Homo sapiens: one gene and its partner. The protein of the gene in region 1 purifies or fractionates together with the protein of each later gene. This does not show direct contact. Each region holds a gene or a part of one and is shown in the gene's direction. Other genes may lie near its edges.

Region 1 (3,816 bases):
CTTTGGCAGCCAATTGAGGCACGACTATGTGGAGGACAGCAGTGAGGGTGGCCTGTCCCCTCTTCCACCCCAGCCCCCAGCCCGGGCAGCAGAACTGACTGATGAGGATTTCATGCGACGGCAGATTCTCGAGATGAGCGCCGAGGAAGACAACCTGGAGGAGGATGACACTGCCACCTCCGGGCGTGGCCTGGCCAAACATGGCACCCAGAAAGGTGGCCCCAGACCCAGGCCTGAGCCTAGCCAAGAACCAGCAGCACTGCCCAAGAGGCGCCTGCCCCACAATGCCACCACGGGCTATGAGGAGCTGCTCCCTGAGGGAGGCTCAGCAGAGGCTACCGATGGCAGTGGGACCCTGCAGGGTGGGCTCCGTCGCTTCAAGACCATTGAGCTCAACAGCACGGGAAGTTATGGTCATGAGTTGGACCTGGGCCAAGGCCCAGACCCCAGTCTGGACCGGGAGCCTGAGCTGGAGATGGAGAGCCTAACGGGCTCCCCTGAGGACCGCTCCCGTGGTGAGCACTCCTCTACATTGCCTGCCTCCACACCCAGCTACACCTCGGGCACCTCTCCCACCTCTCTGTCCTCCCTAGAGGAGGACAGTGACAGCAGCCCCAGCCGCAGGCAGCGTCTAGAAGAAGCAAAGCAGCAGCGCAAGGCCCGGCACCGCTCCCACGGGCCCCTGCTACCCACCATCGAGGACTCCTCAGAGGAGGAGGAGCTGCGGGAGGAAGAGGAGCTGCTTCGTGAGCAAGAGAAGATGCGGGAGGTGGAGCAGCAGCGCATCCGCAGCACGGCCCGCAAGACCCGGCGGGACAAGGAAGAACTGCGGGCCCAGCGGAGGCGAGAGCGCTCCAAGACACCACCCAGTAACTTGTCACCCATCGAGGATGCCTCCCCGACGGAGGAGCTGAGGCAGGCGGCCGAGATGGAGGAGCTACACCGCTCCTCCTGCTCTGAGTACTCACCCTCACCCTCCCTTGACTCTGAGGCTGAGGCCTTGGATGGTGGCCCTAGCCGGCTTTACAAGTCAGGCAGTGAGTACAACCTGCCCACCTTCATGTCCCTCTACTCACCAACCGAGACACCCTCCGGCAGCTCCACCACTCCCAGTTCCGGACGGCCGCTCAAGAGCGCTGAGGAGGCTTATGAGGAGATGATGCGCAAAGCTGAGCTGCTCCAGAGGCAGCAAGGCCAGGCAGCAGGGGCCCGGGGACCCCATGGCGGCCCCTCTCAGCCCACAGGCCCCCGGGGCCTGGGCTCCTTCGAATATCAAGACACTACAGACCGTGAGTATGGCCAGGCTGCTCAGCCTGCCGCAGAGGGCACGCCAGCCAGCCTGGGAGCAGCCGTGTACGAAGAAATCCTTCAGACATCACAGAGCATAGTCCGCATGCGGCAGGCCTCCTCACGAGACCTGGCTTTTGCTGAGGACAAAAAGAAGGAGAAGCAGTTTCTAAATGCTGAGAGTGCATACATGGACCCAATGAAGCAAAATGGTGGCCCCCTTACCCCTGGTACCAGTCCCACCCAGCTCGCTGCCCCTGTGTCCTTCTCTACCCCCACCTCCTCAGACAGCAGCGGGGGCCGAGTTATTCCCGATGTCCGTGTCACTCAGCATTTTGCAAAGGAGACTCAGGACCCCCTCAAGCTGCACAGCTCTCCTGCCTCCCCCAGCTCAGCCTCCAAGGAGATAGGCATGCCCTTTTCCCAGGGCCCTGGGACCCCAGCCACCACAGCTGTGGCTCCTTGTCCAGCTGGGCTGCCACGAGGATATATGACTCCAGCCTCCCCAGCAGGCTCCGAGCGTAGTCCTTCACCATCTTCCACAGCCCACAGCTATGGACACAGCCCAACCACTGCAAACTATGGGTCCCAAACTGAGGATCTACCCCAGGCCCCCAGTGGCCTTGCTGCAGCTGGACGAGCTGCTAGAGAGAAGCCCTTGAGTGCGAGTGACGGTGAGGGTGGCACTCCTCAGCCTTCCCGGGCATATTCCTACTTTGCAAGCTCCAGCCCACCTCTCTCCCCGTCTTCCCCCTCAGAGAGTCCCACATTCTCCCCTGGCAAGATGGGCCCAAGGGCCACAGCAGAGTTCTCTACACAGACGCCAAGTCCAGCCCCTGCCTCAGACATGCCACGGAGCCCTGGTGCCCCCACTCCATCACCTATGGTAGCCCAGGGTACACAAACACCACATCGACCCAGCACGCCTCGCCTGGTGTGGCAGGAGTCCTCTCAAGAGGCTCCCTTTATGGTCATCACGCTGGCATCTGACGCCTCCAGCCAGACCAGGATGGTACATGCCAGTGCCTCCACCTCCCCGCTCTGCTCACCTACTGAAACCCAGCCCACCACCCATGGCTACAGCCAGACAACACCTCCGAGTGTGTCTCAGCTGCCCCCAGAGCCACCTGGGCCACCTGGCTTTCCACGGGTGCCCAGTGCTGGTGCAGATGGGCCCCTGGCACTATATGGCTGGGGTGCCCTCCCTGCTGAGAACATCTCCCTGTGCCGGATCTCCTCTGTCCCTGGGACGTCTAGGGTTGAGCCAGGCCCCAGGACCCCTGGCACTGCAGTGGTAGACCTCCGTACAGCTGTCAAGCCCACTCCCATCATCCTCACTGACCAGGGCATGGACCTCACCTCTCTTGCTGTGGAAGCGAGGAAGTATGGTCTTGCCCTGGATCCAATCCCAGGACGGCAGTCGACCGCCGTGCAGCCCTTGGTTATCAACCTCAATGCCCAGGAGCATACCTTCCTTGCTACTGCCACCACCGTGAGCATCACCATGGCCTCGTCTGTGTTCATGGCTCAACAAAAGCAGCCTGTGGTCTATGGAGACCCCTACCAGAGCCGCCTTGACTTTGGCCAGGGTGGGGGTAGCCCTGTGTGCCTGGCCCAGGTCAAACAAGTAGAGCAGGCTGTCCAGACAGCCCCATACCGAAGTGGGCCCCGGGGAAGACCCAGGGAGGCCAAGTTTGCCAGATATAACCTACCCAACCAAGTAGCTCCTCTGGCCAGAAGAGACGTTTTGATCACTCAGATGGGCACCGCCCAGAGCATTGGCCTCAAGCCAGGCCCAGTGCCAGAGCCAGGTGCCGAGCCCCACCGGGCCACCCCTGCAGAGCTGCGGTCACATGCTCTGCCAGGTGCCAGGAAGCCACACACAGTGGTGGTGCAGATGGGAGAGGGCACAGCAGGCACTGTGACCACACTGCTCCCAGAGGAGCCTGCGGGTGCCCTGGACCTTACCGGGATGAGGCCTGAGAGCCAGCTGGCATGCTGTGACATGGTCTACAAGCTCCCCTTTGGCAGCAGCTGCACTGGCACCTTCCACCCGGCCCCCAGTGTGCCTGAGAAGAGCATGGCAGATGCTGCCCCACCTGGCCAAAGCAGCAGCCCCTTCTATGGTCCCCGGGACCCTGAGCCTCCTGAGCCCCCAACCTACCGGGCACAGGGGGTGGTGGGGCCTGGGCCCCATGAGGAGCAGAGGCCCTACCCACAAGGCCTGCCTGGTAGGCTGTACTCCTCCATGTCTGACACCAATTTGGCTGAGGCTGGCCTCAACTACCATGCCCAGAGGATCGGGCAGCTCTTCCAGGGTCCTGGACGAGACTCGGCTATGGACCTCAGCTCACTGAAGCACTCCTACAGCCTGGGCTTTGCGGATGGACGCTACCTAGGGCAGGGCTTGCAGTATGGCTCAGTCACGGACCTGCGTCATCCTACAGACCTTTTGGCTCACCCGCTTCCCATGCGGCGCTATAGCTCAGTGTCGAACATCTACTCAGACCACAGGTACGGCCCACGGGG
Region 2 (3,816 bases), on another chromosome or scaffold:
ATCACTTTGACTTTGGGAGGCCAAGGTGGGCAGATCACTTGAGGTCAGGAGTTCAAGACCAGCCTGGCCAACATGGTGAAACTTTGTCACTGCTAAAAAATAAAAAAAATTAGCCAGGTGTGGTGGCGCGCACCTGTAGTCTCAGCTACTCGGGAGGCTGAGGAAGGAGAATCACTTGAATAGGGGAGGTGGAGGTTGCAGTGAGCTGAGATCCTGCCACTGTACTCCAGCCTGGGCAACACAGTGAGACTCTGTCTCAAAAAAAAAGATTCACTCATGTCCTAACACTCAGACATGTACCCATACATATCTGTTAAGGTCCCCAACCCCATGAAGCACATATATATTCATATAAGCACATGTCAAAGCCATGTGTGTATGCACATGACAACACTTGCCTGGACATTCAAAGCAGCCCCTTTCAACAAGTGGATGATGATGCATACAAGTAAATACACATTTGAGTATTTCATTGCACACAAGTGCATACATGTATGCAGATAAACAAATACAGCTGCCACAGAACTGCATCCATGTACACATGCAAACATCAATATGTGTGTTTTCCACCTAACATATCACCCACAAGCTCACACACACCAGTGTGTCTCTGATGTAGTGACACCCCACTCCTAGACACACATGTGCAGACTCCCACCTGCACTTAAATGGTGCACATACTCTGCACACATGCACACTCATATCCATGTAGAGGCAGGCACCTGCCTGCCCTGGTAAGATGAGCCAACTACTGCTGCAAATACCCAAGCAAGTACAGGCAAATGCAAGCTCTTGTGTATACACCCAGCACCAACACATAGCAGACCACCCTGTATGGTGTATGGGCCTTATCTCTGCCCGCTTCATTTATTTATTCATGTGGTGCCCCGCTGCTTCCCAACATCGTAATCCACTGACTAGGTCTTGGCAGGATCCTGAGGCTGTGAATGGTAAATGCCACCTGGTTCCTTCATGAAGTCACTTATTTTATTTATGCAACAAGCATTAATTGAGCACCTACTGTATACCAGGCACTGTTCCTGGCTCTGGGACCCAGCCCTATTCCTAGCCATCACTCCTGCACGTCCCATGGGGTTAGAATGAAAGAGATGAGGGAGGGCTAAGGGAGCTGAGGAGTGGGGTATCCAGGGCTCTCTTCCTCTGGGAAGCCTACCCTGATTCCACCACCACCATTTACTTGAGTCTCAGAAGATGTGATGAGGGGGAGATGAGCAGGAGGGAGATGGTGCTCTGGGTGGAGGGAACAGCATGAGCAAAAGCATGGTGGTGTGAAGGGTTACTTCCAGATCTTCCTATGTGCCTCACAGCATTTTGCACAGGCCACTTGATGTTTTGTTTTGTTTTGAGACAGAGTCTCACTCAAAGCCTGTTACTCAGGCTGCAGTGCAGTGGCATGATCTCAGCTTGCTGCAGCCTTGACCTCCAGGGCTCAAGTGATCCTCCTGCCTCAGCCTCCCAAGTAGCTGGGAGTATAGGCATGCACCACCACACCCGGCTGACTTTTTTCTTTTTAATTTTTTGCAGAAGCAGGGTTTTGCCCTGCTGCCCAGGCTGGTCTTGAACTCCTGGGCTCAAGTGATTCACCCTCCTCAGCCTCCCAAAGTGCTAGGATTACAGGTGTGAGCCACCACGCCCAACTGATGTTTTAAAGGCTCTATAAACATGTTATGAATAAATGACATGAACAAATCAGTGAATTTAGGTGAGGGTGGGTTTGCTTCACAACTTACAATAATATCAACAACAAACCCCATTTATCCAGCTTTTTTGTTTGTTTGTTTGTTTTTTGAGACACGGTCTCACTCTGTCACCCGGACTGCAGTGTAGTGGTGTGATCTCGGTTCACTGAAACCTCCACCTTCCAAGTTCAAGCGATTTTCCTGCCTCAGCCTCCCGAGTAGCTGGGATTACAGGCACGTGCTACCACACCTAGCTAGTTTTTGTATTTTTAGTAGAGATGGGGTTTCTCATCTCTACTAAAAATACAAATACATCTCTAGTGGCCAGGCTGGTCTTGAACTCCTGACTTCAAGTGATCCTCTTGCCTCGGCCTCCCAATGTACTGAGATTACAGGCTCGAGCCACCGTGCCCAGCCCAGCATTTCATAGGCATGATGTTAAGGATTTTTATGCCCATGCCCTCTTTAACTCTTACAGTAGCCCCATTGTACAGATGAGGAAAACTGAGGCTCAGGGAGCTTTAACAACTTGCCTGGTGGAACAGAGCCAGAGGTGGAGCTGACTGACTCTAGAGCCTACTGGGGTTGGCAGAAGTTTGAGCCTTCTCTCAGACCCCAGGACCTCGGAGACAGCCAAGTCCCTTCTGTGGAGTGATGTTCTGCCCTGGGATTGCCTTCTTCTTTCTATTTATTTATTTATTGGAGACAGAGTCTGGCTCTGTTGCCCAAGCTGGAGTGCAGTGGCACAATTTCAGTTCACTGTAACCTCCTCCTCCCGGGTTCAAGCAATTCTCCTGCCTCAGCCTCCTGAGTAGCTGAGATTACAGATGCACACCATCATGCCCAGCTAATTTTTTGTATTTTTAGTGGAGATGGGGTTTCACCATGCTAGCCAGGCTGGCCTCGAACTCCTGACCACCAAGTGATCTACCTGCTTTGGCCTCCCAAAGTGCTGGGATTACAGGCATGAGCCACTGTGCCCAGCCAGGATTGCTTTCTTCTCTCATGCATCTAGTAAACAGACATGTCACAATCTCTCCATTCATCGGGGCTATTCCCCTGCTCCTTGCCTAAGAAGCCTTCACACATCCCTCCGTTCCTGGCTACTCAGTCCCTGATACCCTCCAGCTAGGAGGAGCTGCATCTAGGTCTTAGCTCCTACCGTTCTCATGGGATGCCCTCCAGAGTTGCATCTTCAGGGCTGCAGCCTAACCCTTTCCCTAACCTGGCCTCACTTTTCTTCCACATACAATGGACCTCTTCTGCAAGGTGCCAATAAGGGCATCCTGGGTCCAGCAGGCCTGAGTGTGAATTGCTAAGTCCACCACTTCCTGGCAAGTCTCACATCCTCTGCATTCCTTGGTGTGCTCATCTGTGGAATGGGCACAGGAGTAGCATCCACCATCTACGTTTGCCAGAACTCTCTAATGAGGCTTGCAGAGCCCCTGGCATGACTCCTGGCCTACGGGAAGGCCCAATAATCGTGAGCAAAAGACATGAAAAATCAATGATGGGCCGGCCCCGGTGGCTCACGCCTGTAATCCCAGCACTTTGGGAGGCCTAGGCGGGCAGATCTCCTGAGCTCAGGAGTTCAAGACCACCCTGGGCAACATGGTGAAACCCTGTCTTTACTAAAATACAAAAAAATTAGCTGGGTATGGTGGCGCGCGCCTGTAGTCCCAGCTACTCAGGGGGCTGAGGCACGAGAATCGCTTAAGCCCCGAAGGCGGAGGTTGCAGTGAGCCGAGGTCGCGCCACTGCACTCCAGCTTGGGCTACAGAGTGAGACTCCGTCAAAAAAAAAAAAAAAAAAAAATCAATGATGATGTTTTTATTAATGGAGACTAAAAGCTTTCTGGAAGGCGGTTCTGAGTGCAGGACATTTCTGAGAGTCCACTGCATTCTGGGGCCCGAGGAGCGCTCCAAGAGGGGTCCCCCAGGGCCACTCCAGGAGGGAGCCTAGTTCGTTGAGGGTACACGGGTGGGACCGAGCATTCAGCACCGTGGACAGCGCCTGCCCGCGCCTCTGGGGGACAGCTCTTAGCTCAGCCTCCCAGGATTAATGGAGGAGGTGACGTCATTCCTTCCGTGAATTACTATTTAATGAGCACCTACTA

The links.
Region 2: the proteins of BSN (region 1) and UNC13A purify together in Homo sapiens (affinity purification with western blotting, with the first as the bait; one study listed by BioGRID). This does not show direct contact.

What each region holds. Positions count from the first base shown.
Region 1 is NC_000003.12:49,651,971-49,655,786, forward strand, and holds part of BSN (protein bassoon), read left to right. Parts: coding exon 1-3,816. UniProt on the Homo sapiens protein: Scaffold protein of the presynaptic cytomatrix at the active zone (CAZ) which is the place in the synapse where neurotransmitter is released.
Region 2 is NC_000019.10:17,681,651-17,685,466, reverse strand, and holds part of UNC13A (protein unc-13 homolog A), read left to right. Parts: intron 1-3,816. UniProt on the Homo sapiens protein: Plays a role in vesicle maturation during exocytosis as a target of the diacylglycerol second messenger pathway.